Linked DNA regions of Homo sapiens: region 2 is linked to region 1. The links come from fine-mapping of genetic effects on gene expression. A gene starts in region 1. The other region holds a variant in brackets. All regions are shown on one strand. Distances are from middle to middle. Region 1 holds the start of JPH1 (junctophilin 1). Region 2 overlaps JPH1 (junctophilin 1).

Evidence for each region. PIP is the estimated chance that this variant, and not a neighbour inherited with it, causes the effect.
Region 2: its variant is fine-mapped to the expression of JPH1 in esophagus mucosa (GTEx, PIP 0.95).

Annotation. Positions count from the first base shown.
Region 1 is chr8:74,312,330-74,329,109 of GRCh38, reverse strand. It overlaps JPH1 (junctophilin 1), which reads left to right and starts at 7,570. Exons shown (of 6, transcript NM_020647.4): 1 at 7,570-8,201; 2 at 13,490-14,249. The coding sequence starts at 7,823. RefSeq lists a silencer at 7,420-7,519 and an enhancer at 7,613-8,503.
Region 2 is chr8:74,286,451-74,303,230 of GRCh38, reverse strand. All of the region lies in intron 2 of JPH1 (junctophilin 1), which reads left to right. Among named protein-coding and RNA genes, the nearest start is that of JPH1, 27 kb to the left of the region's middle. RefSeq lists an enhancer at 1,662-2,163 and a silencer at 7,334-7,473. The variant GACTTTGTCT/T (reference allele first, on the strand shown) is at 8,835.

The DNA of each region.
Region 1 (16,780 bases):
CAAGAAAAGGCAACCTGTTCTTGCAGCTTTTCATGCCCTCTGGTCCCCCTCAGCTTGCTCCTGGGGATCCCAGTCCCAACTCACAATAGATTGCTTCTGGGTCTGTCAAGACTTGAGTCAAGAGGACTCAAGCTCATAATGGGAAATTCTGAATGAACAGGCACTTTTTCCCATGGTCAAGCACTCCTTTACTACCAAGGCCAAGTAACTTTCAAGTAAACTGTTTCTCAAAAGATGTAAGATTGCCTGTTGCAGATGATATAGATCCTTGCTTTAGATCCCCATAGACTTGCAACTGTGATTCTTCCACAGGGGCTTGCCATAATCTTCATATATCTTTTCTCACCACTGATACCTCCAACACCATAGGATCTGCCTGATCATATGGCCCAAGAGGCAGGGCTGCTTGCATCACAACCTGAGCCTCTAGAAAAACCCCTTCCTGGTCTGAGCCCTCTCAAAGCTGGTGGCCTCCCTTCTGTGTCACCTAGCACATAAGCTGAAGTAGTGTCTAAGTGTGTATGTGTTGCTTCCAGAACCAAAGAGTAGGCCTACCAGGTGTTCTGCTTCCTTTTTGTAGCAGAGGATGCAAGATGCATCAATTTACCCTTAACTTGGAGGGGTTGTCAGGGGCAGTGGCCTTGATGCAAAACCCACAGGAGATGTGAAGTTGTGGCAGCTGGAGTCTCTTTGCCAAGTACCCTCCAAACTGTAGGTTCTCTTGAAGGCAGATCTGAGCAGTGAGCCTCCACAGCCACTCTTTGGGTGTTCTGATGTCTCTGTAAGCTTTAAAAAGTGCTTGCCACATGAAAATGATGTAAAATGCAAGAGATGACAAAAATGCTAGAGTGGGATGAAGGAAAGGAAGAGGAATTTAAGCTTTATTTGGAATGCAATCAGTATCTGAAGAATGGCCTACAAGGGCTTTGAGGTGTGCATGCTGAGCTGATATGCAGATTGGTACTGCAACTCTTGGCAAAGATACCACATCCCCCCTTGTCATTCAGTTAGAGGAAAGCCTCTTCTATTATTGGCTATTGTTTCAAATCCCATTCCTGAGCTCTTGGAACCATTCACTCCTCAATTATAATTTACATTTCTTTTACTGTCTAATAATTGATTGCGTTTTTCTTTCCTTCAGCTATGAGTCATTTAGTAGCTACTTACTCCTTTGCTTTCAACAATATTGTGTACCTCCCTTCTTTATGCAACTGCTTTATGAAAAGGTTATCTCATCAATTTTTACAACTTTTAACAACATCTCAATACTGACACTCTTCAAAATGCTTTTAGATTCCCTTGCTATCTCCAAGTCGTGCAATTTCAAATACTGAGTTGCCTTTCAGTCATAGTTTCAGAACAAAGCGTTGTGATTTTAAATGTAGGATGAGAGATGAACTCATCGCCATGTCTCCTCGGATGCCTGGGATTTCTTTTTCAGGAAGTCTCTTCTGTTCTTACAATCACAGATTGAAAGAGAGACTTGAAAGAGTGGTAAACCTTCATTCCCTTCATTCCTTCCCTTGGTAGGGTGCCTCTTAATTCAAGAAGATCATTGCATTATAAATATCTAGAAGGGTATGCCTTTACTATATCCATAAAGTTAAACAACATGCCAATGATTACTGAAAATTGTTTCAACCATAGCAATCCATTAAATCACTCTGTCCTCTGAACTCTTACGATACTTGGCACTTATTGGCTACTTGTAGTTATCTCCCTTGTATTTTTATTATTTTTCTTTTTCATCTCCTGTCTCTTTAGAGATATTTTATATCCTTAAGTGCAAAGGCTGAGCCTTACTTCTCTATGTCTCCATACCTAAGACAGTAACCATGTACACATATATAAGATGAATAAACATATGCACACATATACATACATATACGTACACATTTTGTGGTTTGGTTCAGGCACTACACCTCTAATACAGACCTGCAATCCACTCTGTCTTCAAGTTACCACTCTTTCAAGTCTCCCTTTCATCTGAGGTTACCTTTTTTATTGTTAGAACTTTCCTGAAACCCTCTGTGAGCCTCATCATTAGACATGGATGGTGTCCAGGTCTATGTGGAGCTTTCCCCATTAGGAAGAGGAGGCAGAGGGCCACAAGGGACGCATCATGAGAAGAAACCAAAGCATTGCCCTTGAAAGTTAAATAGGCTCAGCTGGTGTTTTTAGATCAGAATTAGACTATTTCTAAATCAGACTCTTGGCTTCTAGGGCAGGATTGCCTAGTTATACAAGATAAGCCAACAAATATCCAGCAATTATACAAAATTCTGGTACCATAAGGCTAATAGTTGGAAAACAACAGATAGCATAAAGTTAAGGAGACTAGAAAGGGATAAGAAGATGAAAAATACACAGAGAATGACACAGCTGAAGTGGTGGGAGATGAAGAGGGAGAAGAGAAGCACAAATATGGGCATCATAGAAGCCAAGGAGATGAGTGTCCCCAAGTATAAAATTCACTGCTGCCACTAGCAGGATAGGAACTGAAGATATGCCATCATATCTGTCAAACAGAAGGTCCCTAATGGCTAGAAAAGCTTCACTAGACCGGTGAGAACAGAATCCAAATCAAGTAGTACGTAAATTGGAGGCAGGGACATAAAGACCAGAATACACTCTTTCAAGATCTGCAGTTTCAAGAAAAGACATAGAGGACTTAAGGAGATGGTAGACCAGCAAATTAGGACTGTTTTAATATGGAAAACACAAGAGCTTGTTTGTTGGCTGAAAGAGAAGAAATTAAAACATATTTAAAAGAGAGAAGGTTTGGAGGCCAAGACGCGTGGATTGCTTGAGGTCAGGAGTTCGAGACCAGCCTGGCCAACATGGTGAAACCCCGTCTCTACTAAAAATACAAAAATTAGCCAGTTGTGGTGGCACACACCTATCATTCCAGCTACTCAGGAGACTGAGGCAGGAGAATTGCTTGATCCCATGAGGCAGAGGTTGCGGTGAGCCAAGACTGCACCACTCCACTCCAGCCTGGGCAACAGAGCGAGACTCCATCTCAAAAAAGAGAGAAAGAGAAAGACAGAGAGAGAGAGAAGGAACTGACCCAGAACTTGGGGAGGAAAAAGGCTATCTTTTCCTCTTGGAGGCAGGTGAATGGGAAGAGGAAGAAAATGGGAACCTGTGTAAAGTTTTTGAAGAGAGGAAAGGTGCAAGTGTTCCTAGCTCCTTCTTCCTCTGTGAGACAGAAGACAGTGTCCTCTGCTCAGCAGGAGAAAGCTGCAGTGGAGATGGGCTCCAGGATGGTGATAAATATCAGGAATCTGCCTGGGAAAAGTTGTGCTATGTAGCATGGAGGACTTTGAGGAGAACCAACGGAGTGTTCAGTGAGAGTGGCAATGAGGGAACGCCGTCAGAGTGGAATTGTAAAATCCCAGTTTGCAATTTTCAGCTGGACCTATACTCTCAAATTCCAGAGAGTTGGCCTTACTGGACCTTACTTGCTGGATCAAAGTCAAGTCCAGGCTATGTCCGAGGCCCGAGTGAATAGTGGAAGTCTCAGAAGGGGATGTTACTGAACAACGGCTGTCAGAGGAAGAAGAAAAATGGGCATTATTTACTTATCAACCTACTTATTTTTAATTTTTGACCTCTCCTACTGAATTGCCTACTGATCATCTCTGGGGTATACTTCTGGATCATTGTCTCCTAAATAAATATATCTTCTGCAGCCCCCATAATTTACTCTCCTTCCTCCTTTAAAAAAAAAAAAATCTAGACAGCAACATTATCATTCACCCAGGCAGCTAATCTAAAAAAATAAGAAATAAAAGTCATCTTTACTGCACCTTGTTGTTCTCCGCCGAGCATTTGAAAGCTCTCAATGTGTTCTCATCCTCTCTCCAATCAAGGACAGGAATAAAGAACCTCCTCTAAAGTCACACAGACCTGGGTTTGAATCCCACCTCAACCATTTCTACCTTGAATAATTCTGTACCTATGAATGTGCTAAACCTTATTTTCTCCTTCTGTGAAATGGTTGTACGACTAGTACAAATCATCTACAACTATGAGATTTAAATGAATTCATACCTGTAAAAAAAGCTTAGTATGGTATCTGTCATACAGTAGTTGCCATAAAAGACTTGAAGACCATTAATTTTGGAATTCTCTTCCTCTTCTGATTTCACACTGCCTGCAAAGTTTCTGACCATATTTCTTAATTTTTATATTTATCACGGACAAATTTCTTGAGTTTGTAAATTCTTTATTGCAAATATTCAAATTTTGATTATTTGATTGTATAAATCAAGATGGTAACACTTTTTGACTTATATATCAAGTGATTTTAATTGTATGTGTTTTTCTACACACTTTGAATCATGGTTTTTAGACAATAAACACCTACAGATTAGCTTTTTGTCATTTGTAAATTTTTTATTAAAAACTCTCAATAATCAGTCGGGGTTTTTTTGTTTTTTTGTTTTTTCTTTTAGAGATGGGGTCTTCCTATTTTGCCCAGGCTAGTCTCAAACTCTTGGGCTTAAATGATCCTCCCGCCTCAGCCTCCCAAAGTGCTGGGATTACAGGCATGAGCCACCTTGTCCAGCCAATAATTAATCTACTATGTAAATAAAATGAAGTCACCAATAAATTTTTAAATACACCTTCATTTTTTGAAAGACATCATTAAATTCCAGCAAAACATCCTTACTAATATGTTGTTAACTGGTCATAGTCACACTCAAAATAGCTTACAATATGTTATAAAATTTTTTAGAATGGAAATATATAATAACTAGGTTTTTAACATGGAGGAAAACAAACTATAGGGTAGTTGCTGGCCCCTGGATTTTCATGGCCTCCCCCGTTCCACCTGTCAAACCAACATTCACATTCTCTTCTTACTAATCCCTTCTTAAAGCTAAATTCAACTCCCCCTTATCCAGGGCAAAGGTTCAGAGGGAGAGGGAAAATAAGGACATTACTAACCCTGACTATTAAACTGCAACATTATTCCACTGTCTACTATCTGCTATGCCATCACTCTCAGCATCTCTTCCTCTTCCTAGTATTCTCTCCCCGTCTTCTCCAACCGTTACCATTGACCCTGAACACTTACACTAACACATATGTCTTCGTGACTGGGTAAACATTCCATTGTGATGGCAGCTGGTAAATGGAAGCATGGTTTATATGGTTATTTGCCAAAAATTGTTTAGTAATTTACCAAAAATACCAACTTTCTTTCATAAAGAAAGTCAACATCAGAGCTAGGCTAGGATTAAGATTAGTTAAAATTTAATCATACATACCTAGTGGTAAAGTCTCACTTTTAATTAAGGTTCTTTGCAAGGCATCTATTAGGGATAGCCACAGGAAAAGAGTAAGCAATAAATGGCCATGTCTTTTTTCCTCCCCAAATCTTCATATTCAATCCAGATGTGTGTGCACCTCCCACCACAAATAGACTAGATATCCATTACAGAAGCCAGAAACTTGGTTTGTGCTCTGTGTTCCAGAAAATCCCTCATTTGCATGACAACTAATTAGGAAGAGTAATAAATAAAGAGATAAAGGTTTCCAAAATTTATCCCCTTAAAGAACATATATGGGTCCTAACACACTGGGTGGATCCAAAAAAAAAAAAAAGGCAAAGGGACAAAGACTACTCTATGAGGAAGTCTAGTTTAGAAAGAGACTCCCCCATTCAAAATATTGGCTTGAGCAACCACACTTTTTCTCATATCATACAGAACCTCAAAATATATGGGAATGCATCTTTCTACATTAGCTCCTGATTCTGGTGTATCCCATAACAGGGAAATGGAATTATGGCTCAGCCGCAAAGCCCTGGCCCTCATCTTCCCAGCGGCCTAAATCAATCCCCAGTCCAGGACAAGATGCTTCGAGAGATGCATAATTATTTCAGGCCACTAGGGTAAGCACTATTCCTGGCAACTCTGCGGGCAGTGCCATGGATGAGGGCTTCTAATTCTCTTTGGTGATTTGGTTCTGCATAAACTGAGATTTTTCTTTCAGTCTTTCAGCCAGATAAGTAGGAAAGGTCGGCTCTCGTCCTGAGAGAGAGGCAATCAAGGTCAATTTCAGTTCCTTTTCTGTGCAGTTTAGTCTACTTTTTCCCAGGCTGTCTTCCTGACACCTGTCCTTATATCTATATCTGATTATCAAATACTTAGTGAGAGAACCTTTGGCAGCTTCTGATGCTCGCATAGTCACCCAAAGGCCTCTCAGCCTAAGAAATAGCAGGAATACACTCCAAATCAGTTTCCTTGAGAGGCCAAACTAAGACCCTAGGCTGTGAAAGTGGGAGAAGTTTCTCCCGTGGGTATTTTGAGGGTGAGGTGGAGAATAATGCTTTCTCTCACCAGAGGCAATGCTGATCCAACTTGCCTATTACCAAATCTCTAATTTTTGGTTTGGCACTGCAGCCACAATATACTCAGTTATTACCGAATATAGAAAGAGAAAGGCAAATCTTGTTAGTCCCATTCAGAAGATGGTGAAATGGAGGTTTAAAAGTTTAGAAGAGTTGCCTAAAGTGAATTCGACAAAGCAGTGTTGTAGCTAGAAAGTAGACCAGCTGACATCTGTCCCTGGTTTTGTAGGTCACAGTTTCTTTGCAAGTTTAGAGCAGTGCTTTACTTACCATATTCCTCCTTGCAAACCTCTATTTACTTTCTTAAACAGTGGATACCAGTGGAGAGGTGTGCATTCCAGACACTTATACAATGTACACAGACCGAGCCGTCTACCTGTTGGGCACACAGCTCCAGGCTCAAGAATCTCTAAGGCTGTTAAGAAGCACAAACGAGGCACGAGAGGGGGCAGGCTCTAATGTAAAAGGAATATCCTGTACCACTGCAAAGGCCGATTGAAAACATCCTCTTCATCACTATTAATAAAAAACTAACCAATATATTCTGTGCTTTTTCAAACTGTACTGCTCACCCTCAGTGTCTTCATTAAATAAATGCAAACACGTGTGCTTTGAAACGGGTAGGTGTAAAAGAACACTCTGCACAATTATATCTAGGCTGCCGCAGATTTACATCACATGCATACATATATCTAGGCGATATTAATTCACGATGACAGCTGAGCATGACAAATGCAACAGTACACAAGTTGGAATGCGAAAACAATGCAACTACAAACCCCATGCAGACAAACACGCATACAATGAGTTTTCCCTCAACACACACGTGGCCGCACTCACAGGAGCTTAACCACTTTGAAAAACCCCAAACACAAACACCGGGGGCTCCGGCGCCCGCGAGCGGCCCCCACACAGGCAGCCGCGCCTTCATCTCCAGGCAGGGATTCTCGTGCGTCCCCGGGTACACTCGCCCTCCCACCGGCATCCCACTGCGCGAACACATGCGCGCCAGCCGGTCCCCGCGCGCGCCCGCCTGCCGAGGAAGCGGCGGCTCCCGGGGCTGGGGGCAGGGCCCGGTGGGGCGGGAGCGCCGCGGGGCCGGGCCTCGGCGCCCGGGGAGGGGACGAGGGGCGGGCGCGGGGCGGTGCCCGGCTCACGTGGGCGGGCGGGAGCAGCTGAAGGTCCGCTCGGGAACCTGGGCTGTCCTCTCGCGCGCGGCGCTGGCCCAGGCGGCGGCGGCGAAGGAGGAGGAGGAGGAGGAGGAAGGCGGCGGTGGCGGCGGCAAAAGAGGAGGGAGGACGGGGGCGGCGTCGGACTGGAGCCGAGCGGCAGCGCGAGCTGCCCAGGGCGCTGTCGTGAGCTCGCCCGCCGGGCCCCCACCCCCGAGCTACACCCTGCCGTGCCCAGCACTGCCCGCGTCCGTGCCCCTGCGGGGAGCGCGCCGGGGCTGCCCCCCGAATGACGGGCGGAAGGTTCGACTTCGACGATGGCGGCACCTACTGCGGCGGCTGGGAGGAGGGCAAGGCGCACGGGCATGGCATCTGCACGGGGCCCAAGGGCCAGGGCGAGTACTCGGGCTCCTGGTCGCACGGCTTCGAGGTGGTCGGAGGCTACACCTGGCCCAGCGGCAACACCTACCAGGGCTACTGGGCGCAGGGCAAGCGGCACGGGCTGGGGGTGGAGACGAAGGGCAAGTGGATGTACCGGGGGGAGTGGTCACATGGTTTCAAGGGGCGCTACGGGGTCCGGCAGAGCCTGTGCACCCCCGCTCGCTACGAGGGTACCTGGAGTAACGGGCTGCAAGACGGGTACGGCGTGGAGACCTACGGGGACGGAGGTGAGCGGCGTAACGGGCGGCTCGGCTGCTCCGCGAGCTGGTGCGGTGGGCTCTGCCCCGGCTGCGGGGAAGCGGGGAGGACGCCGGGCGCACGTGTCCGGAAACCCGCCAAAACACCTGGGGGCGCCTCCCACCCCCGCGCCCGCGCCCGCCTTTCCCAGAGAGGGCGCTGGGACCGGACTGGGGCGCGAGGGCTGGATCTGACCCCGTTCTTGGAGCGGGCCGTGTATCCACACTCAGGGGAGCTAGGCGTGAATGTACCTGGCCGGCGCCAGCGCTGCGCTGCCACCGGGAGGGAGCGCCGCCCGGGAGGGTTGGGCTGGAGAGAGGACGCTGTCACTTGAGCCCGTCACATTACGTTCCTGATCCCTCCCTCTCCCGGCCGGGTTTGAAATCGCCACTCCCGTGGAGTTAGAGCGAACACCCTGAGCGGGTGAGGTTGGCGGTCCGTGCTGACCGCTCCCGGGATTGGTTTCACGTGGAGTCGTATTTCGCTTCTGGTCCTCCAGTAGCCTAAAGATAGAAGCCAGAACCCCGTAACTAGGATGTTGGGGAATTGTACCTTATTTGGGGGTGCATTTGGAAACGTCCTAGTTATGGGAGCAGAAAGGCCACCTGATGCAGGTGGAGTTCAGAGTGTGTGAGTTCCTAGTTTTCATTCCGTTTCTTAAAGTATTGGTCTTAAAAGAGTAGCAGTCTTTGCTGACCTGGAGATCTTGGACAAATTACTAGGAAGATATTTTAGAAATGGGTAATGAAGTCTACATTTTAAAGAATACAATTAGCAGGTGTGTTCCTATAGCTGCTAAGTTAGCAGCTACTACTCCTGAGAATGGCAATACTGAAACAATAATTTGCATTATGTGTGACCTAAGCCAGTATTCCTGGCTGTGAACAAAGATCACCTTATTTTAATATTTAACAATATTTGCCAAAGAGATTGTGTATATACCAGGACAGAAGTTCCTCTTTTATTAGGAAAAGTATACATTATTGAAACAGGTGTCAAAACCTGATGAATTTCCTTGTGTAATACGCTGAGAAAGATATTCATGAATAGCTTATGCTTTAGCAAAGTGCATTTCCTGATAAACATAATCATATTTAGTTGAAAAGGGTTGTAGGAGGCGACATCACTTTTTGGAATTAAGCAGCTCAGAGTTGGAGGATATTAAAGGGATGCAATTAAAAGTTTCTCCAGCCCACTGCAACCCCATTTATACCATTGCTTATATAAAAGCTTACACAATTTGTACACTTCACTTAGTCAGAACACTTGGGCCGTGTTTCAAATGCAAAATGGCAGAATGGTAGAACTTGCTAAAAAGGACATCTTTTCATCCTACAGTATAAATTAAGCATATGGTTCTCATGGATTAAAAGAAAAAAACGTTCTCTAATAGTTTTATGTGGGGCTGAGTCCCGAGTTTCACAGTAGTTAATTGGGACCCTTAAATGTTCTGAATGGGCATAAAGTACCTGGTTGACAGCGCTGTAAATATGTCAGTTTGTGACTGGATTTTGTTGGAGGCCCCAGCTCTACTATATAACTAAATTCCATGCTCAAAAGTAGAAGGCAAAATTTATTGTTTTAAATGTGTGCATTATTTTATAATCTTTTAAGAAGGCCAGGGATGGTTCTCTTCAGTTTTGGAAGGTTAAAAATCGTCTCCTTTTAAAGATACTATTCATTAAACACACTCTCTTGGTTTAGAGTATTCATTATACCTAGTAATCAAAATATATATAGCACAGTAGAGGCTGTCTGTGTACATGTCGTAGAAACCCAAATAAGTCTCCAGAATGATTTTATGAATAATCTGCCTTCAGTTTTAAAATAAACTTAAAAAAAAACTTAAAACTTGGCATCATCCTGGGTGGTACTGTGGTTTTCTTCTTCTACCAAAAAAAAAAATCTAATATGCTACAGTTAGGAAGAAAAACCTTAAAAATCACTACTGAATGTCTACTCTATGCTAATAGATTTTCTACTGTCTCATATGTAACTATTTCATTAGAAAGTTCTCAATCATAAAAAGGGAGTCTAAAGCAAGTTTATTGCTGTAACTTATTTCATACAAAGGTTTTGGCCAAAATAGGAATATCACTAAAAAATTAGCTTGTTTTCTGCTGTTCTCACTAAGGAGTTAGCTTGTTTTTGTTTGCACTCTCCCCATCGCCACATGTCCATCCCTGTACACCCTGTATCAGATTCAGGGAAAATCTGATTCCGAGTTTTTTTGTGGTGACATTAAACTGGAGGAGGAAGGAAGCAGTAATTCCATGTGAGACGTATCACTTATTTTATTAGTGATTTGTGTATTACATGTTGCTGAAATAGAAACCCCCTGAATATTAACAATAAGTTAGTATCATACTCATGAAATCCAAGTCTAGGTGCCCAGAATTTTTTGTGCTAATTCTGATCTGTACTTTGTTTTTTCACTTGTCATAAAACTATTGAAAATATCTGGGAAAACACAACGTTTTGTTAACTAGATGCATACTTGCACATACCCATTCGGAGCATATAAACTGAAGTTTGGCATAGTGCAGTGCAAATTTGACTGAAACTCCTAAACTGGATGCCTTCCACTACAAGATTGTGTAGTTAAAATGACTAAATCTAAAAAATTAGCTCCCAAATGAACACAGTTTAAAACTGGTAAAAGTAATTTTTATACTTGTGAAATATGCATCTACATTTTAGGAATCAAGAGGAACTAATTAGAACTTTATTTGAGCAGCAGGGAGAAGTTGGAACCCACCTGCTTCATAAAGAAATAGGCCCTTTCTTATTCTAGGTTCATTGACTAAACTAAACCTATTTTAAATTTCAGATGAACTGCTAACAGTTTGACTGCAAATTGGTTTCTAGCAATTCTGTGGAGGAATTCTTTCATATACTGTGATTTAACAAAATAGGAGAGGAATGTGGCCAATGCTCTTGTCCCCCCCTTCCCTATTTGACAGTTAAGCAGAGACTTAAACTTTCTAATTATTGCTGTTGCCTTAAACAGCTTGGATTTTCAAGCCATACTTTTTTGGAAATTCTAAATACTGTACTAGTCTTATTTTTGGAGATAACAGTTTAAAGAAACTAGCTGTTAATTTTCCATCAGTGTTAAACATTTACCAAGATGGTATGGCTGTGTTTTAAAAGTGCAGATACTTATTGATATCAAACAGCATCTCTGCAAATTGTTCTAGCAAAATTAACTTGTCACTATAGACAAAAGTTAGGAGGATGTGATTATAGCATTCTTTTAACCAACAAAATATTAAAAATAAGGTGGTTTATTTTAGTATCTTCAAGCCAGATTGTGAAACTTTCATCCTAGAATTTAAATTTTACCTGTATAGGCAAAGGAAAAGTCAAAGTCAAAATTTCCTAATAATTCCATTCCCATTCCTGTTAAGATGGCGGTATTTGGAGATGGCCAGTATTCAATAGGAAGCTTCTTAGCCTGAAATGTTTTACATGACTATCTTATCCTCTTGAGTTAATCTTTCAGAGAAAACTGTGGGCCACCCACCTCCTCAGAAGTTCATAGATGTCAAGTTAAGACTTCACATCTACCCAGAATATGACATTTACAGTACCAGACCCACTTAGTATTTCATTGTATATCTACTATTGCCTGTGTCACATATGCCAGAATGAACAAAAAGAGAAGGTAGTCTTGAAATTGGTCAAAACCGTTGACTTGGGAGTCATTATGGTTTTAACTTTTAAGTGCAATGAAATAACCAGCCATTGTTAACACAGTTATATAAAACCACTAGCATTTTTGCCCGGTGTTTTGAAAATGAATATGTGCCATGCAATGGAAATCTGTGCATGGAAATATAAAATGCAAAGTGACTGCAGGGTAGATCTATATAATCAGAAATGGAAAGAGGTCAAGACAGACTAATCATTATTTGTTTTCTATGACATTGTGAATTGTTATGAATAACACAGAAGTAATTACATTTTAAATTTTCCAGATAGCTTCTTTTGAGGGATACTGTAAATTAAAATTTACCCTTAATTAAAGGAAATTGATTTTGAAAAGAAACTTCTAAATTCCCTAATTTAACATTCATTTCCTCCTAAGATTATTTTAAAACCTGTACCAGGTTATTTTTTAATGTCTTTGCTTATTTATTTAGTAGCAAAAAATTCACTACAAATGCTCTAGATGACAGACTATCATGAAAAAGCATAATATTTGTTGACAGAGTCATCTGGTATCAACATTTTAATAGATAGTGTCAAATATACCTTTCCTCTGAGATGAAGTCCAAAATGGTAACAGTAGAAGATTTCATCTGGCCTTACATCAGTTTCTCCAAGAGTAAAGGGTATACTTTTTAGCCACCATAGCTTTTTACCGTCAACATAGTCATCAAACACCCTCCATCCACAAACACAGACCAGAGGACACATGAGAATTTTGTGTTCTCATACGAAGTAATTCCTGCCCTCAGGGTGCTTCTAGTCTGTGGTGTGATTCACAATGCAGTGGCAGCTAGGGAAATCCATAGAGGATGCAGAGATTTGGCAAATGATACGGCACAAAGCTTTGGCCTTTTCACTTAGAAGCACAAAAATGTTAAATTACTCATTTTTTTCATAATTCACTGTATTCATAATATATATTGTGGTTGTCGATTCTCTCTTAGCTCAAAAAGGTTCACCCAAATTCAAATGATAATCCTGAATATTCAACAGTTTTGTCTACACTAAAAAAAGAGATGCTGAATGTAGCAGAAAATTTAAGACGTTCATTTGATGACTGTGTCCCAAGTATTCCGATTTAAGCCTGTATACTTCTTGGAATGTTATACTGACATAGACCTAAAAGTCATTTTTTACAGTTTTCCAGCTAAATTAGTAATATTAGAATAAAATTTACACATAGAATTCATTTCATCTTCTACTGTTTCCTTGTCTTCTTCCCAAGAGGAATTTTTGATGCATTAATTTCAGAGGAGAATGTTGTTTCCCAGTGTTCACTTTTTGTATTAGAAAGTAGTGGTTTTCCTCTGAAATACTTGCATAAAATTTTAATGAAAAGCAAAAATTATCTGACTACTAGAAAATTCTGTGCAATGACATTAAAGCCTTACACCCAAAATTACAGGGCGGGGATTCACAAGTGGATGCAAAGTATCCCCCAGGGTTGACTTGGAAATGGGTCAGATTTGACCTTGGGCAGGCCTGCGCCAGTGTGCGCTGGATGGTGCAGGTGACGGTGCAGCTCTGCCCCCGACTCACGGTGCTTTCTTGCGGTCTCTCCAAGGTACCTACCAGGGCCAGTGGGCCGGAGGCATGCGGCATGGCTACGGCGTGCGCCAGAGCGTGCCCTACGGCATGGCCACGGTGATCCGCTCACCGCTGCGTACCTCGCTGGCCTCGCTGCGCAGCGAGCAGAGCAATGGCAGCGTGCTCCACGACGCCGCAGCCGCCGCCGACAGCCCGGCCGGCACCCGCGGCGGTTTCGTGCTCAACTTCCACGCAGACGCTGAGCTAGCGGGCAAGAAGAAGGGCGGCCTCTTCCGGAGGGGCTCCCTTCTTGGAAGCATGAAACTTCGCAAGTCCGAATCCAAGTCTTCCATCTCGAGCAAGCGCAGCTCTGTCCGCAGCGACGCGGCCATGAGCAGAATTAGTTCCAGCGATGCCAACTCCACGATCAGCTTTGGCGATGTAGATTGTGATTTTTGCCCGGTGGAAGACCACGTGGACGCCACCACCACGGAAACCTACATGGGCGAGTGGAAGAACGACAAGCGCAACGGCTTCGGCGTTAGCGAGCGCTCCAATGGCATGAAGTATGAAGGGGAGTGGGCAAATAACAAGAGGCATGGATATGGCTGTACCGTGTTTCCTGACGGCTCCAAAGAAGAGGGAAAATACAAAAATAATATTCTGGTCCGTGGGATAAGGAAGCAGCTTATACCAATAAGACATACAAAAACTAGGGAGAAGGTGGACAGAGCAATTGAAGGCGCCCAAAGGGCAGCTGCCATGGCCAGAACCAAAGTGGAAATAGCAAATTCAAGGTAAGTAAATGCAGGGTGGTTGGTTTTGCTGGGTTGGTCAGAACAATGGAGTATCAAATATTATGTTTGTCTATCTGCCAGTGACATCGCTAAATGCTTTCTACAACTACTAAAAAATCAAAGGTGAAAAATGATTACACTCAGTAGAATCAAAGTCAGAAATGTACCTGCACTGTTCTGAAACTTCCCATCATCAAAAAATGTCGAAGGCACTTTGAGCTCCCCTTCCTGTTCTAAATTACTTCCCTCATATTTAACAGCGTGAGGGAGTTCACTGAGACCCTGTGCTCATCTTCCTGAGCCCGGAAAGTTGCTGTTTTCTTTTCTTTTTTTTGTAAGAAGGACCTCTGAAATGCTGCCATAGCAAGCATTGTGTTTTGTGTACCAAAAGAAAATAGCAATCCACGTAGAAACATACTTAGTATAGATGTGTACCTTTATTCTGATATTTACATCGGAGGTATGTACACTTAGCCTAGCTTATACAATTCAGATTCTGTTTATGAAGTCTTATAGGTAAAATTGGTTTTGAGACAGCCACCAAAATCTACATATGGCAAAAGTGGAAAATAACATGACAAAATCTGGCATGCATTGTTAAAAACAACAGCTACATGGGAAAGGCAAAGAGACCTACAAGAATCGCCACATTCTATGCAGAAGAGATTAGGTCACTGGTGTATTAAAAGGAAAGGGGTGGAGGGAACCTGACAACCTGACATGGACAGATGGGACTCTCAATGTGCCAAGGTTGGAAGAAAGAAGAGCAGTAGAGAAGGGCTGGAGTGAGTAGGAGAAAACCGGTGAATAATAGATTGACAAGTGGGGTGTATGTGTGGGCACAGAAGGACTACGTGCTTGAAGTTTTACCATTAATAGCTGGTTTCAGGGATCCAGCAAGAGGGATGGAAAAATCTATTGGGAATAAAGTTCTATTAGGGAAGGATATCATAGGTGAGACAAAAAGAAAAAGGTGTGGTAATAAATGGAAAATTTTATTTTTAGTCTTATTTAAGTGAGTACTGACTAGCCACAGCTTTGTAAGACTTGAAGCATAAATGTAGCATAGAATATTAAAAATCCTGTTTCTGCTTCAATAACACTCTTCCACAGAAGTAAACGCCCTTTTGAAACCACAAAATGTTAGCATGTCTTCAGGTTTTTGTTATTGGCATTGAATTAATGAACCTCCCTTTTTTTTGATGGAGCCATATGAAATTTCCAATGTTCAAATTTTTTAATGTACAAAAAAAAATGGTGACATCATATGGTTCAACTTAGTACTTCTAGAGTTCTTTTTTTTTTAATTCCTCTACTTAAAAAATAAGTAGGGCTACCACTAAATAAGGTTGCATATTTTGCATTACTTTTAGATATATATTATATTATATATTAAAAGTCTTCAAGGTTTTCATCTTTATCCCAAACTAATTTCATTTCAAAGCTATTATTTTTTGTTGATCAGCACAAACTTTAATGAAGGGTCTCTCTCTCTCCTGTCTTCTCTACCAGGCATCTTTTACTTCAGATCACAGTTTTGGATCTACTTTGCTTTTCAGTTTGCTTATAGATCAGATACTCAGCACATCTAATCTTGCTGGCTTACTTTTAGACCTAGTGATAAACATTTGTTAGGCCTTGACCTCTAATTTTAAATGCACACTTGGATTCTTCCATGTTTTCTTGTTACAACTTAGTGACATGCTAAAGTCAGCTCAGTCTTGGGAGGTGAAAAATGAACCTGTGCAGAACACTTTAACAAACGACTTATCATTAGTTTCCATTGGAGGAGTTTGTATAACAGAAAGCGACTGGCAATGCAGAGATGATCTCTGATTATGCTAGTATCATAAAACCCTCACCCAAGTCCTAGCCATGTTCTCTCTGTTGCAAGTCTTTTGGGGGTAGTATTATTTCATTTGGGAATACTGTATTATATAGTTATAATCAAGAGATCTTTAGTTTAAGACCTTATACTTTTAGCCAGTTAGTTACTTCATAGTTACTTAGCTATGTTTAAAATGCTTAATTCATTATGCAAATGAAAGAAGTCAGTCACAGAAAAACAAATACTGCATGATCTCACTTAATCAAATACTGCAATGACCTGACTTGATCTAAAATGGTCAAACTCATAGAAACATAGAGTAAAATGGTGGTCGCCAGGGACTGTAGGGTGGGGAAAATGGAGGGTTGCTGTTCAACAGATACGAAGTTTCAGTTACTCAAGATGAATACATTCTATAGATCTGCACTACAACACTGTGCCTATAGTTAACAATACTGCATTTTGCATTTAAGAATTTGTCAAGGTCAGGTGCTATGGTACATGCCTGTAATACTAGCACTTTGGTATGCTGAGGCAGAAGGATCTCTTGAGCCCAGGAGTTCAAGACCAATCTCTGCAACATAGTGAGACCCCCGTCTCTGCAAAAAATAAGAAAATTAGCCGGACACGGTGGCGCACACCTGTCCTAGTTACTTGGGAGACTGAGGTGAGAGGATGGCTTGAGCCCCAGAGGTCGAGACTG
Region 2 (16,780 bases), 26 kb after region 1:
GCAGAGCTTGGAGCCAAACCCTGGGAAAGACTTACGGGACATGCAGAGAAAGAGGAAATCCTTGTATGTAATACTAGACACAGCTCTTTTTAAGAAGTACAAGTAAAGCAGTTCTCACATTAAGTGACTAGGAATTTGTTGCCTTATGACAATGCAATTCAGGTATCTGAATTTCTATTCTTGAATTTGTGAAGTTATGCTTTCTAAGGTTTGTGCTCAAGGGACCTACCCAGTGAGCAAGCTCTGTTGGACTGTTTTTTTTTTTTTTTTTCTTTTCTTGGCAACCTACTGGAACAAAATATCACTCTCACAAATTATTATGCTAAAGAAACATCATTTGGCAAACATTTATTTAGTGCCAGCTCTGTCCAAATATGGCACTAGGCCCTGGGAATACAGAGATGAATAAGAAACAAAACCTGTCATTAAAAGCAAATACCCTACCAGGTTCACAGTACCTTTGTGCAACTGGCAGGTGCTATGAGGCTGCAGGTTGGAGGGACCCACTGAGAGGCACCTATGACCCATCCTGGGTGAGCTTGTCACAGGCACTTTCCTGGAGCTCTTTGCACCAGCAACACTCCTTGCCTGAATGCCTTCTCCCATGTCCCCCTCCTTGCCTAAGCCCTGTCAGTCCTTAGCGATTACACTCAAGTTCCATAGCAGGCATGGACTGCATTAAGAAATAAAATGTCTCTTCCAATAAGTAATTTTACACCTGATAACAGGAATGCTATCAATAGAGCATAGAAAATATATGTACAAATTTTATAATGCAAAAGGGAAAATTACTAGTGGTTTCTTTAAAAAGTTTAAAAAATTATTTCTACCTAGAGTCCATAAGATACAATTTTGGGTGGTAGCAGGATCTTATTAGCAGTATTTGTGTACAGAAACATTAAAGTTAGCAATTTGCAGTAAATGAATGTTTTGGCAGTGTTTCCAGATAAGGAAACAATGTAGATGCTGCTAGGTTTCCCTAAGGAAACAATGTAGATGCTGCTAGGTTTCCCCTAAGTGTGTTATGCACTGGTGCACATTGTTCTCTTCTTGTGGTCTGAGGTCAGTAATTTGGGTGATACCTTTTGGCTACACACAAAAAGACCCAACAGGTCTTGAGTGGTTACCTGCTGTGTGAATTTGACATCTGTCATCTCCTCTCATCCCCATGGCAACCCTGTGAGTTGGTAGGAAACTGAGGCATAGGAAATTCACATGGCAAGCACACGGCAGCGTCAGAGCCCCAAGCCCTTCCCCTCCACTGGGTTTTGAGAATTGGGATAGGAATTTTTTTTGAACCCATGTACCCTGCTTAGGCTCATAAAAGAAGATCTGTCTGGGAACAGTATTATTTAGTCATAGACTTCATTTGGCCACTGTTTCATTTAACAGACATTGTTCATTCAACAGCCACAAATCTTGTGAGCCAAACAATCATAAAAAGATAAGGTCAGTATAACATGGTAAATTCTAAGAAAAAAACCATGACAGTGCAAAAGAGGGAAGAACACTGAGGGCATATGGGGCTTACAGGGATGAGGCTGAGCCTGTGCAGGTGAAGAATGAGTGGAAGTTAGGGAGCAAACAGTGGCCAGTGTTGCATATTGGAGGAAGATCCTGAGCAAAGGTGGAGTGGAATGAAAGTGTACAGTGTGAGTTCCTGCAAGCAGTTGGATAGTGGAAGAACGCTTTCTCCAGGAGCGATCTGTCCGCCCACTGCAGCAGATCACAAGGGGTGCTTAAAATTCTCTAGTCCTCCACCCAGTACTGAATTAATGTTTCTTTGCATAAGGTCCAGAAACTTGCATTTGTTACAGACTTCTCAGGTTATTCTTGGGCACACTAAAATTTGGAAAGTGCATCGGGAGGATATGATAAGAAACAAAATTCCCAAGGTTTGGGAGCTGCATTTTCTGCTTTTGGCTTTGGGGAGTCTTCAAAGGCATTTGAGAAGGGAGCCATCTGCCTTTGAATGGATGGTCTGCCTGCTTCATGGAGAAAGAATTTAAGTGGGGCCAGGACCGGAGGCCTGGTCTGTGGAGGAGGTGATAAAAGACCCTGGTTGAGGGCAGGGTGGCAGAGACAAAAGGGATAAAATTAGCAGGACTTGATGGACTGCAAGTAGTGGGTTAGGAACAGAGGCAAGTCTGAGATGTTGTGTGGATGATACTCTAATACCCCTATTAAGGTTAATGAAAAAGGTTCATTCATTCCCAGTATATGGGTGATAAATTATTCAATTAGAAAATGTAGTGATTCATTCCCGGTATACGGCTGGTTGGGGAAATGGGGCGGGGGGCCAGTAAGGCTCCATCATTCATATGAAACAAGTACATATGAAACAAGTAATCTTTCTGGGTCTCTCTTTCTTATCAATGAAACGGGTGAGGAAGTGGAAAACTTGACCAGATTGTCACAGAAAACCTGAGTTTGGATCTCTACTCTTTTGTGAATTCCTCTCCTTTCGCCTGTTTTTGAACCTGACTTCACATAACAATACCAATGCTTCTTATAGAAATTATTCAGTTAGTAAATGTAGTGAGACAACATTGACATTTTACTTTTCCAACTCCAGATTTTTCCTCAATCAGAAGATGGTATAAAAGGGAAAATGTCATCCTGTATACTTCGGAACAAGATTATAGTTAGGACCCTCTAACCAAAATTAAAACCATTTTGAAGTAGCAGTAAACATTCCACGCACACAACTCACTTACCAGTTATTCTTGTTTATATCAGAAGTATTATCAATACTTACACACTTAGTACTGTGCTAGATGTGAATGGAGGAAAAAGCGTGGGCCTGACCCCCTCCGCCCCCCACAACGCACACACAAGCTTAGAGTCAATTAGAGAAAATGCATGTACATGGGAGGTAGTTAAAAAAATAACACGAAGCAATTCAGTCAGTCCCGTATTTGTTTATTAGTGCTCTGCCACATTCCATGAAGGTTTCATAGTTTATATAAACGTCAAAATGGCTAGTCTTCTAGGAATTAACAAAGGAGTGGATTGACTTGTTTATAAAGCAGTTCCAAAGACTTTTACTTGGCCTATAGCCTAGTGATATTTTGTTTTTGTTGTTTTTCATGGTACTGTGTGAATTTGACAGTAAAAGCATTTTGAAAAATTATTCTAACTCTTCGCTAGATCAGAGTAACTTTCAGCCCATTGTTGGAACTATGAAAATGTGATTCTAGAGTAAGTAGTCACTACTGTTTAATTCCGTAAGTGAAAACGAGGGCGAGAAGAACATATTGAAGGTTTTCTTTTCTTTTTTTCTTTAAACTTTTTAGTAATGAATCACTTTTGTGGTGTTAAAAGTTCAGCTACAAAACTTTATTGTTTAAAAGTTTTCTTTAAATTACAGTTGCTATATTTGTAACAGTTAAAGATGTGCCACTGTATTCAGCACCCAATGACAACATGTTAAAGATACTTCAAGGGAAATAGAAGGCATACACCAACAAAGGGAAAAAACAAAACAAGCCTCAGACAGGCACCCCGCTCCCCATAAACAGTGTCTATGTAAATATGCATATGTGGCTGTGGTTAAAAGAAAAACTTTAGCCAAATTTAACAGAGTTTAATTGAGCAAAGAACAATTCGCACATCAGGCAGCCACCCGAGCCAGAGTGGGTACAGAGATTCCAGTGCAGCTGTGTAGTTGAAGAAGGGTTATAGACAGAAGAAGGAAAGTGAGGTACAGAAACAGCTGATTGGCTACAGCTCGTCATTTGCCTTATTTGAACACGGCTCGAATCGTTGACCCCCTTTGATTGGCCCAAAACTCAGTGATTGACACAAGAGTAAGCTACAATCTGTATACAACTCCATTTAGGTTATAGTTCGTGGTGTGCAGAGAAACCTTTAGGCTGAATGTAAAATATGTAAGGAGGCAGCTTTAGGCTACACTTAACACCCTAAAGAAATACTGAATAATGAGAAAAAGGGAGAAATATTAGAAAGACGAGGTGAATAAAGAAGGTCCCGGTATGATTAGTGTGTCTGGTGCCAGGAAGAGTTGCTCTGGAATGACTTCGTAAAGAAGTTGGTCCTTCGGCAACATTTTAAAGGGAAGCTAAGGGAAGATTTGTTCACAGTGGATCGAAATTTTACCAGGTGGGAGAAGACCCCATCTAATGATGTACAGCCCGAGGAGAAAAAAACCCCCTCAAAGGCAGTAAAGGTCACCAGTGTTCATTATTTGTGGGCAGTGTCGTCTTCGTGGCTTTTTGTAATAGGTCTTAATTTTAGCTTCATAGCCTGTTTAATCTTCTCCTGATATTCTGGGTTGATGTTTCGTAATGGCTCCCATTGCCAGTAGTAGAACCTGAAAACAAGGATCTTTCATATGCACACAGGTCTCTCGTGCCTTCATTCTACCACCAGGAAAAACATCCAGAAAGGTAATAAATTTGTGGAGAACAGCAGTGGTATGACTACTCATATTTCTGAAAATGAATGCTGTTGTAGGAAAGTTAGGAAAGTGGTGGAGATATTAGCTACAGCCCTACTGTCAGATTTGTACCCTGTAGCTTCATCCTCTTTTGAAAAGTCTTACAACAAACCCACCTGGATTTTGCGTTGCAGTGCCGTCGAGTACAGCTGAGTCATGGCAAGAGAAGAGGACAATTAGATAAGGGGTGCCTGACTATTAAAGGATCTGAAAAGCACTAACCAGGGTATTATGCAACACACAAGTGGAAACCGTTTCAGAGTGCCGAGGAAGTTATTAACAGGAGCAAAACAACATGTGAGGAGAGTGATTTTAGCTACAGTGCTCAAGGTAGATTGCAAGCAGCAGAAGTTGGGGATGAGATCATAAAGGACATGAATAAATGCATCTAGGCAATAAAGAACTGCACCCTTGAAATTTGTAAAGGAAAACCCATCTTGTATACAACAACCAGCTGTATACAAGGGAGTTAACGTTCTAAGGATGTGAGTACAATTAGCTAAGAGCATAAGTGGCACCATAAAGGCTGATGGAGACATTATGGGGAGAAAGATAGTGAATCTGATGTGTGGACATTCAAGGTGATAGATAAAAAGATAACATGAGTTTCAAGTAAGAACAGTACTTTGAAGCCTTGAGCACTTAGCAGCTTCCCGAGGATATGAATACATCAAAATTGGAGATTGGCACTGGCATTTATAACAGCAATTATTAGGAAAGTGAGTAGAGGGGGCTGGAATAGAGAAATCTCTAAAGAAGAGGCAGAGATGATGACCTGTGTGTGGAAAGAAGCAGAGAATTATTTTTGTGCTACTATTAAGACAAAATGCTAGACAAGGTTCAATTGTTGTTATAAATGTAATTTCTCTATATAATTTCATCATCTAAAATCAAATTAGCAAGTACTTTTTATTTAAGGGGTAATAAGAGTAGTCATCACACTATCTAGATAGCCACACACTATCAAAGCTTTAACTCTTCATGTTGACTCTGACTACGTTTATATAAAAGAATGAAATTCACATCTATAACTTTCTTTGCCTTAGAAAAGGCATTTTCCAGTTTTTATTAGTTGTGTGCAAAATGGAGCAAAAGAATGAGCACATGGCTGACATGAAGATATTTGTCTTACCAGTTAAGCAGTGTGAAAACTTTGCAATGACTAATTTCAGGCCCCAAATGCAGTGGTCTGGGGCTGTACCTCTGGGAGGACATTACTAGGCATTTTAACTGCATGGAGTCGGTAGGGCAAAGAACAGTGAGTGAGTTAAGAGTCCCGCGAAGCACACTTGGATGCAGCTTGAGAACAAGAGCAAGGGGAGCTGAGGGTCTGTTTTGTGTTATGTTCTGTGGTACCATCTGTATCTTTATGTTCCTTGGTCCCTGCTGGAACTTGTCACATGTTTACTCTGTTTGACGTCCCTCTCTGGTTTGTAATAGAGAATCTACATAGTCTCCAAAGCTGGTCGGGAGTGCAGTCCAGCTGCAAATCTTTGGTGATGGCAAGTCCCTGCTTGAGAGGACTCCTTGCCCGTCGGAGTCTGATCAACCCTGCTCCTGCAAAGAAACAGCCAGGTGTTGGGTGTGTTTGATGAAGTACAAGAGTCTCTGTTGGGCAGTCTGATTTTTCTGTTAAGAAAATACTAGTTATATGAATGTTCTGCTGTAGTCCACCAGCAGTTTTTTTTACTGTTCATCAAACATGAAAATATGTAAAGATAAAAATATTTTTACTAAATGATGAACAAATGAGTCAAAATATAAAATTGTTTATGTCCTGAACTCTTCAGGTATCAATTTCTCCTGCAAAATCATAGCTTGCATTGGCTTATGCCTTATACTTTCTGTCTATACGTGGACTTCGAGTTAGCCAGAGATGTAAAAGTTTTAAGTTTTCAAGCCATGGAGGTTAAGAAGGGATTTCTTGGATATATTTATTAGCTTGATTTAATAATTCTGCAGTGTATCCATATATCAAAGCATCACGTTATACGCTATAAATATATACAATATTTATTTGTCAATTATATCTTAAGTTGAGAAAGGGAAGAGGGATTTCTTGGTAGAAAAAAATGAAATTTTTAGGCAAGCTGATATATTTGCAGGCCCTGAATCAAGCAGCTATAAAGACCTTTAAGAATTTAAAATAGGCTTTGCATAACTGGATTTTCTCATGACATTTTGAAGAACTTTTTTCCTTTGAGTTTTCTGTTCCTCCTTTCCCCATTCATTGCATCACTATGATTAATATGATATTCTGCTCACTTAAATTCTAAATAACTTTTAGAAGCCTGAATAAATACTGAACTAGTGAACTTTAAAGCCAGATAGAGTTGCTATAAAATATTTTTCCCAATAGTTAAGCATAAATCTAAAGCAAGTTAGGATCATTTTTAATGAGAACTAACTTTGGGTTTGTACCCAGAATAAAATGTTTGCTTATACCACTCTGGGAAAGAAAGCGATAATTATGAATAGGTCATTTTTAGATGTCAGTGGCTTACTTTATGCTTATTAGTATATACTATATAGCTAATAAAAATAACTCTGTTTTCTATACCTTGCACGGGACCCAGCACAGTTACCAAGACATTATAGGCACTCCAAATACTTGGTTTTGATTTATCTCCTTTGAGTTAATATTCTTCCTTGGAGATTTAGAATAGGCAGTATTAGGCTAAGATTTAATCGGGTTTCTGATAGTTCATCTATTAGCCCAATACTCCGTGTGTGTGTGTGTGTGTGTGTGTGTCCTTACTGAGATTGCTACATACCAGGTTGTTCCCTTTCGTGGAAATGGTGATTATTCGTAACTGAAAGTCCTTTGTGGTTAGTGATAGTGATTTCACAGGACTCGGGTAAAACACACACGCAACGCCTGAGTGGTTTGAGCTAAAACCAATGAGTTGCAGTTTTGGAGGTTTTCTTGACTCATGACCTGGGGACTGTACCCACTCCTTGAACAGGTTTCAGATCAAGGCCTAGGAGCAAGAACCCGAGAGACCCATCTGCAGGCAAGCTGCAAGAGAATATCCTGCTTTTCCTCAGGATACTAGCCCTGCCCTCTGTTTAGGGCCAAGAATGCCAGAAAGACTCTGGGACCTTATTAAACTGAGCTGAGGGGGGAGATTTTATTCAAGTGTTGTCTATGAGATCTGTTAAGCCTTAGATTTCTTACCCAGAAAATGGGATGATTTGGTACTCAGCTCACAGGAGTTTAGGAGAATTAAATGAGATCAAGTATATGTGAGTGCCCTTGGCACAGTGAGTAGCACTTAGTAGGTGCTAAATAAACTGTTACAGCCAACAATTGTTAAATATTTTCATGCCAAGTATTGTGAAAAGACAGTGTTCGTCCTCAGAGTGTTCTGGGCTGAGAAATTGAGAAAGCCAGCGTATAATATATGAGGTGATGAGAGCTGTGATATAGCAAAGAACTATATGTACACACATATAGAACTATATACACACACACACATATAGTCACATGGGTGACTATATCATCAATGTATACATGAGCCCAGCAGAGGGTCCCTAATCACTTAGAGGAACCAAGAGACCTTCTAGAGACTTGAGTCTTGAGCAGGGCCTGAAGGAAACCAGTAGGAGTTTCTAGAAATAGAAAGGGGAGAAAAGCTTTCCAAGCAGAGGGACCTGCAAGGGCAAAAGCATGGAGGATTAGGAGCTCTCATTTGTTTCTTCCCTGCTAAAGTGCTATTGTCATTCAAACTTATGTAGGTCCAGGGCACAGAGAAGCAGCATGTGTGGTTAGTGGTAAAGCACACACTCTGTGCCACCAGACAGTCGTTTAGACCCTGGCCCTGCCAATGCTGTGAGTTGGGCAGATGGCCTAACTGTTCCACGTCTCAGGCTCCCTCATCAGCAAAATGGGAAAAGAACAGCAATAGCTACTCAGAGGACCATTGTGAAAATTTAAAGAGTCAATAAATTTAAAGTAGAAAGTGGACACTAAATATTTCATGTTAGAGTAAATGTTGTGATCATTTGAACCAGCATTTTCCAAATGCCTGCTCTGTGTAAAGCAAGTACACATTTTGGTGCCTTGGGAGAAACCAAAATGAAAAAGATACGGACTCTATCCTTCAGGAAATTTATAACCAAGAGACAGATGAATATGTAAACAACTAGCAATGCAGCTTGAAGTTAAATAATAGCTACGTGGAGGTTCAGACAATGTGTGGGAGCATCACCAAAAAAGAAATTTGTTCTGAGGAAGAGGAAGAATTCTTGTGAGAAGAGAGATTGTTGTAGAATTTGTGCCTAGTGCTCATTTTGACTTGCTTTGTCTTGGTAGTACGTGAATCAGGACAGGGACATCCGGGCCTGCTTTTGGCCCTGTTTCCTCACCGTGGCC[GACTTTGTCT/T]TGGCTTGTCTCTGGTCTACCTGGACAGTGTTCAAATGCTTCACTTAGAAATGAAGCTCGAGAGGTGAATAAGGTAGGTTTGATTTATCAGTTTTATTACTCAGCTGCTTGAGAGAAGTGCAGAAAGAGCAGGAGCTGAGGGCAGGTGGCACGTGGGGAACTTTATCTTCAATGAGAAGAAATCAGGCTACAGAGAAGTCCCCAGGCCCTAGCTGTAGAGCACATTCACATAATTGCCCTTGTGGCCATTCATGCTCCTGCCTCCCACATTCAGAGGAGTTCCCTCAGGTGTGCAGGATTTTCCCCCACCACCAGCCCCCAAGGACAGACCAGAGTGACGCCTGCATTGTGTTTTGGAAGTCGGGGCTGAGATGAAGGCAGCCCTTTCCTGCAGTGAAGGGGGACCCTGGTCTGCGCTCTACAAAAGAGACACCCCATGCCCAACCTAGGGGCTGCTGGCTCTTGAGTGGGAGGTTGGTGTCAATTGGCCCCCGGTGTCTTTGTCTTCCAAAAGTTGGGTCCAGACTATCCTATTTTTGCCAGAAATATCTCACAGGCAGTGGTCCAAGCCTGGCATAGTCTCATAGTTTCAGCTCTGATAAAGTGCCCTCCCCTCTTTATGGTCAGTCTGGTCCTGGAAGGAGAAGTGGTAAGTCAACTCTAATTCAGTTATGGTTGCCAGAAATCAAAGAAGTGAATGTGAGCTGCATCACCAAGTATTACAGAAGGCAGAAAAGGCAAAGCATGCCTATAAAATCTTTAACATGACAGCCTGGTTTTTACTCAGAGAAATTTAGGGAATTATTTTGAAATATTTCTGCATGATGGGGTAGTGGTTCGTTCAGCTGTGCAACTTGAGATCTTGGTTCTGTCACTTTAAGTGGCCTTGAGCAACCGGTTTCACCTCTCCAAGCCTTAGTTTCCCCATCTGTAAAATGGGCATGATAGTTAGTGGCACCTCCTCACAGGGTTAGAATGAGTGCTTAATGAATTGGTGTGTGTTAAGTGTTTGGAACGGTGCCCAACGCTAGTAAACTCTGTGCAGGTGGAGCTCTTACTCTTATGGGGTCACATCAAGAGATTTTTGGTGAATTTGTTTTCCTGCTGCCACACTGGGCCTATCCAAGGATATAATAGTGTCTTTGAGGCATTATCCAAGGCTTTTGTGAAATACAGGTCATAATATATATTTTTTCAGTTACTAGATTAGTAGTAGAAGTTCATTGGCTCTCAGGTCTCTGAGAAAGATAGCTGTACAGGTTCCTACCCAAATTCTGGAAAAGAGTAAATTATTTTCTCCTAATACTTTGCATACAAATATGAGGAAGAATCCCAGCCTGTGGTTTGTATGACCACACCTCTGTTTGACGTTCCCAAAGGCTGCTCTAGGGTGTGTGCAAACTGTGGCTATAAAGACAGATTTCTTTGATGGAGGCTTCCTTTTTAAAACTCAGACCAGCCTGATTCACCCCTGCCTGCCATCTGCTATGAAGTTTAAACAGCTTTGAGCTGAACACCTGTGTCTTTGTCTTGCTTTTTGCCTTGCTAAACAGGACTTGATTGGATTTCCCTTTTCAACACAATTGCCCACCTACACATCTACATTTCTGTGTTGCTACCTCATATGGCTTTGATCAACCTGTTCAGAAGAAATAGCCAGAATTTAAAGTATGAGAAAATAACATTAAAGTTAGGTAGGAAATTCTCCTTACACTACTTTTCTGTTTGTTTGTTTTTTAACAGCAGTGTGAAACGTCTGTGTTAAGATTATTAAAATATCTTCATTTTACCCGTTTGTAAGTGTGTCTGTTTAGGCTTTAAGGAAATAACTGAAGCCATTCTTTTCCCCCATATGCAGCTGGGTAACTTGTAATCTGCAAAATGGCATCAGAAGAATTAGGTAAAACACAGGAAACACAGGGAGCTAGAAGTCAGTGACCACAGACCCCTCCGCAGTGTGTATTAGTGGCAGTTCATGGAAGACCTAGACCAAGCCCCTTGCTTATTGGCCGTTTGATGTCGCTTCCTTGAGTAGACACTGCTGGGTATTCAGGGGGTTCCAAGTGAGCATGGAATAATGCCAGCGCTCAAGTGGCATATTAGTTAGTAGTGGAACATTCCACATCACTGTGATACAAGGTGGAGAGTAAGTGCCATGTGGGAATCAGTTGTGTTTTTCAGAACGTTTTTTTCTGTTTAATTTTTTATTATTATTATACTTTTAAGTTCTAGGGTACATGTGCACAACGTGCAGGTTTGTTACATATGTATACATGTGCCATGTTGGTGTGCTGCACCCATTAACTCGTCATTTACATTAAGTATATCTCCTAATGCTATCCCTGCCCCCTCCCCCACCCCACGACAGGCCCTGGGGTGTGATGTTCCCCACTCTGTGTACAAGTGTTCTCATTGTTCAATTCCCACCTATGAATGAGAACATGTGGTGTTTGGTTTTCTGTCCTTGCGATAGTTTGCTGAGAATGATGGTTTCCAGCTTCATCCATGTCCCTACAAAGGACATGAACTCATCCTTTCTTATGGCTGCATAGTATTCCATGGTGTATATGTGCCACATTTTCTTAATCCAGTCTATCATTGATGGACATTTGGGTTGGTTCCAAGTCTTTGCTATTGTAAATAGTGCCACAGTGACATTTGCGTTGGTTCCAAGTCTTTGCTATTGTCAATAGTACCACAGTAAACATACTTGTGCATGTGTCTTTATAACAGCATGATTTATAATCCTTTGGGTATATACCCAGTAATGGGATGGCTGGGTCAAATGGTATTTCTAGTTCTAGATCCTTGAGGAATCGCCACACCGACTTCCACAATGGTTGAACTAGTTTACAGTCCCACCAACAGTGTAAAAGTGTTCCTATGTCTCCACATCCTCTCCAGCACCTGTTGTTTCCTGACTTTTTAATGATCGCCATTCTAACTGGTGTGAGATGGTATCTCATTGTGGTTTTCATTTGCATTTCTCTGATGGCCAGTGATGATGAGCATTTTTTCATGTGTCTGTTGGCTGCATAAATGTCTTCTTTTGAGAAGTGTCTGTTCATATCCCCACTTTTTGATAAGGTTGTTTGATTTTTTCTTGTAAATTTGTTTAAGTTCTTTGTAGATTCTGGATATTAGCCCTTTGTCAAATGGGTAGATTGTAAAAATTTTCTCCCATTCTGTAGGTTGCCTAGTCACTCTGATGGTAGTTTCTTTTGCTGTGCAGAAGTTCTTTAGCTTAATTAGATCCCATTTGTCAATTTTGGCTTTTGTTGCCATTGCTTTTGGTGTTTTAGTCATGAAGTCCTTGCCCATGCCTATGTCCTGAATGGTATTGCCTAGGTTTTCTTCTAGGGTTTTTATGGTTTTAGGTCTAACATGTAAGTCTTTAATCCATCTTGAATTAATTTTTGTATAAGGTGTAAGGACGGGATCCAGTTTCAGCTTTCTGCATATGCCTAGCCAGTTTTTCCAGCATCATTTATTAAATAGGGAATTTTTTCCCCATTTCTTGTTTTTGTCAGGTTTGTCAAAGATCAGATGGTTGTAGATGTGTGGTATTATTTCTGAGGGCTCTGTTCTGTTCCATTGGTCTATATCTCTGTTTTGGTACCAGTACCATGCTGTTTTGGTTACTGTAGCTTGGTAGTATAGTTTGAAGTCAGGTAGCGTGATGCCTCCAGCTTTGTTCTTTTGGTTTAGGATTGTCTTGGCAATGTGGGGTCTTTTTTGGTTCCATATGAACTTTAAAGTAGTTTTTTCCAATTCTGTGAAGAAAGTCATTGGTAGCTTGATGGGGATGGCATTGAATCTATAAATTACCTTGGGCAGTATAGCCATTTTCACAACATTGATTCTTCCTATCGGTGAGCATGGAATGTTCTTCCATTTGTTTGTGTCCTCTTTTATTTTGTTGAGCAGTGGTTTGTAGTTCTTCTTGAAGAGGTCCTTCACATCCCTTGTAAGTTGGATTCCTAGGTATTTTATTCTCTTTGTAGCAATTGTGAATGGGAGTTCACTCATGATTTGGCTCTCTGTCTGTTATTGTGTATAGGAATGCTTGTGATTTTTGCCATTGATTTTTTATCCTGAGACTTTGCTGAAGTTGCTTATCAGCTTAAGGAGATTTTGGGCTGAGATGATGGGGTTTTCTAAATATACAATCATGTCATCTGCAAACAGGGATAATTTGACTTCCTCTTTTCCTTTATTTCTTTCTCTTGCCTGATTGTCCTGGCCAGAACTTCCAACACTCTGTTGAATAGGAGTGATGAGAGAGGGCATCCCTGTCTTGTGCCAGTTTTCAGAGGGAATGCTTCCAGTTTTTGCCCATTCAGTATGATATTGGCTGTGAATTTTAGACCAATATCCCTGATGAACATCGATGCAAAAATCCTCAATAAAATACTGGCAAACCAAATCCAGCAGCACATCAAAAAGCTTATCCACCACGATCAAGTTGGCTTTATCCCTGGGATGCAAGGCTGGTTCAGCATATGCAAATCAACAAATGTCATCCATCACATAAACAGAACCAAAGACAAAAACCACATGATTATCTCAATAGATGCAGAAAAGGCCTTCAACAAGATTCAGCAGCCCTTCATGCTAAAAACTCTCAATAAACTAGGTATTGATGGGACGTATCTCAAAATAATAAGAGCTATTTCAGAACATTTTAAGTGCTAAGTAATGTTCGTAAGGGCAAAAGGCTTATCCATGCGGCAGCATCAGGAAAGGTCATGGGGAAAGGGGAGTTAGAATTGGATCTTGAACCATGACAAGGATTTAGGCAGGTAGAAATGGGGAGAGAGTGTGCTAAGTAGAGCAAAGAGGATGAGAAAAGGGCACCAATACAGGTGCTGGGGGCACCAGCAGCACTGTGGGAACACCAGTTCTTAGTGTGCTACTGCAGGGTTATGTTTATTGCACATTTTTCATTTAAATACCTTTAGAATTGTCTCTGCTTATTTTTCAGTCAAAGCATTAATCACCATTATTAATATGTTAGCCCGTCTGTTCTCGCTAAGGTGGTGTTACCTTTCTCTGAAGAAGGTCATGCTGTAGCTAGTGGTGTCAGTGGGTTGGACGCAGGCATTGCCAGACTGCAATGGTGTTAAGCCACAGTAGCCATTTCCTATTAATCACGTAAAGAAATGAAAATCAAATCTGACTGGACTGTTGCTCCATTTTCTCAAAACAGGAAGGTTTCTATAGAAAACGTCCTTTCCCGTTACTGAAGGTTGCCTGGTTTACAAGGTCCTGTGGTTTTAGTACAGATGTGTTTCCTTGGACTAGTTTGCTTGTATCTTTCAGAGTTTATGCTGCAGCTTCCCCACTCCCTTCACAGATGGGTGAGCCCATATTGGCCCAGCACTAAACTCTTAGGTAAAGTCTTCACTCCATGCACAAAAGAAGGGCATAGTTTGAGTGTCATTTTTAAGGCCAAGTCAGCTCTCTACATACTTAAAATATCTACAAGCTTTTACCTGAAATGTGCAAACAAAAGGTTATTCAAATAACTGAAGACTGTTACAGTTACATAAGTCTGTGGTTTCACACCTTCTGTTTATTTAGTATTAGGTTGGTGCAAAAGTAATTGCTATTTTTGCGCCAACCTAATTAATTGCAAAAACTGCAGTTACTTTTGCACCAACCTTGGTATTTACCAAAGATGACATGCATTCATCTCTCTTGAGAAATTGTCCATGGGCTTAACTCTGTGTTTCACCTTCCTAGTAAAGCATTTCCTTGACTATTCCTGTGCTCCTTAACTATCCTTTCCTTCTCCCTCTTGCGTTTTCTTGTCTTCTGCCCACATTTGCCATTCCTGCCCAACCCCATTTTCTTACTCTTCCCACCTCCCCACTTATAGACTGTGATCCTCTGTCCTTCTGGATGTCTGGCTCTACTTTCCCCATTTTCACCCCAAAGTCGTTCATCAATCTAGTTCATTTACTGGATGTTAATTGAGAGCTTACTCCTTGCTGATGACATGCATGCTGTTGAAGAAATGGGTTTTCAGAGGCAGCCCTTGGGTGAGACAAATAAGTACACAGCCAATTGCAAGGCATAAGTGCTGGTGCAGCTGAAATTCTGCTGCAGAGGGTGGCAGAGGCTTAGCAACCCACGGAGGATGGGAAGATGAAACCTGTCCTCGCCAAAGCCCCTCCTGGGGCTGCTTTTCCACCCGCCTCCATCTGCCCTCTTCTCCATGGCATTCAGTACAGACCTCTGTTTTGGTGTAATACTTATTAGACAATATTGTACTGAGTCCAGCCAGTTCTCTTTAATAATTGTATACCTTGCAGATAGAACACATCCAATAAATTGTGACTTCCCTGGAGTTAATTTTCTTTGCAGTAAAGCGAGACTGGTGACTTAGAATTGTTGTCAAGGGTTTTCTAGCTGAAAAAAAAAAATATTGTCAGCTAAAACAAGTACATATTTGTATTGAAAACGACATAGATGTTTTCTCTTTAGTTTGTGATTATAGGGACATAGTTTGAAAGTGAATTTCTTCAATAAGATTAATTTCCAAAAAAAAAGTTATTTTGTTTCATTTTTGCTGGTTTTGAATGCAACTGTTTGTTACCAGTGCCAAAACAGTGGATGTGAATGAAATGTATAGTCAGACGGAAATTTCACGTCACTGAGTGGAATTTCACCCTTCTTTAAAAGTCTCCGCTTTCTGCCTTAAAAAAAAAAAAAAGAAACTAGACTAATTGTTAAATTGTATGTGCAAACTAATGCAATTTAGTGACCTTCTCAAAAATCATTTTGAAGTGATTTCAAGAATTCTAAGAAAAAGATCTAGGCTGTTTCTAAATTTAGTAGCCCATGATTTTTAAAGATTTCAACCCTAGGTCCTTGGGGCTCATAACAATCAGTAGATAACCTTTTTTCCTTAACATTACAAGAAAAAATGTAATTTTTAACTCACAGTAATTTTTTTTTTTTTTGAGACAGAGTCTCGCTCTGTTGCCCAGTCCGGAGTGCAATCTTGGCTCACTGCAACCTCTGCCTCCCAGGTTCACGCGATTCTCGTGTCTCCGCCTCCCAAGTAGCTGTGTTTACAGGCACGCATCACCATGGCTAATTTTTGTATTTTTAGTAGAGACAGGGTTTCACCATGTTGGCCAGGCTGGTCTCAAACTACTGACCTCAGGTGATCCACCCGCCTCAGCCTCCCAAAGTGCTGGGATTACAGGTGTGAGCAACTGTGCCCAGCCAACTTGCAGTAATTCTTATTAAACCATATCTAATGCATGCAAGAGCTCCAAAAGCATTACTGGGTTTTCTCCACCACAAGTGGCTGTTTCAGCTCTTGAGAGTTGTAAATTAAAAGTAGCTCCCTGTTAGCCTAGGGTTCTATCTCCTACATAGACTCTTGTCATTACAGGTGTTGTGTGAGTCTTCAAAAGCCTGCCTTGATTATTTTTTCCATTTTATTTTCCATTTTCTTGGGAAATGATTGTGTTTTATAAGCTTAATTCAGTTTGGCAAATATTTTTCACTTACTGTTTGGGCAAGCCCTGGAAGGCACTTTAGGAAGATCAAACATACACACCATTTAACTAACCATCAATGTAAGAAAGACTGTACCAAGTAAAAATTTTAAAGCCAGATTATTTTATTTCTGCTTTCATGAATTTCCAGTGTAATGGAGAAGATAAGAGAAATAAGTAAGCATGTATCTGGCCAATTACTTATATGTTTTATAGAGTTACAGACATAATTATAAATCAGGTAGGTTAGGGAGATACAAGTTTCATTTAAGAAATGAACTGTAGGGGAAGGTAGTGGGGAAGAGAGGGATCAGGAGAGGTTGGCCAATGGGTACAAAGTTACAGTTAGGAAGAATAAGTTCTGGTGTTTTGTTGTACAGTAGGGTGCCTCTGGCAAACAACAATGTAGTGTATACTTTTAAG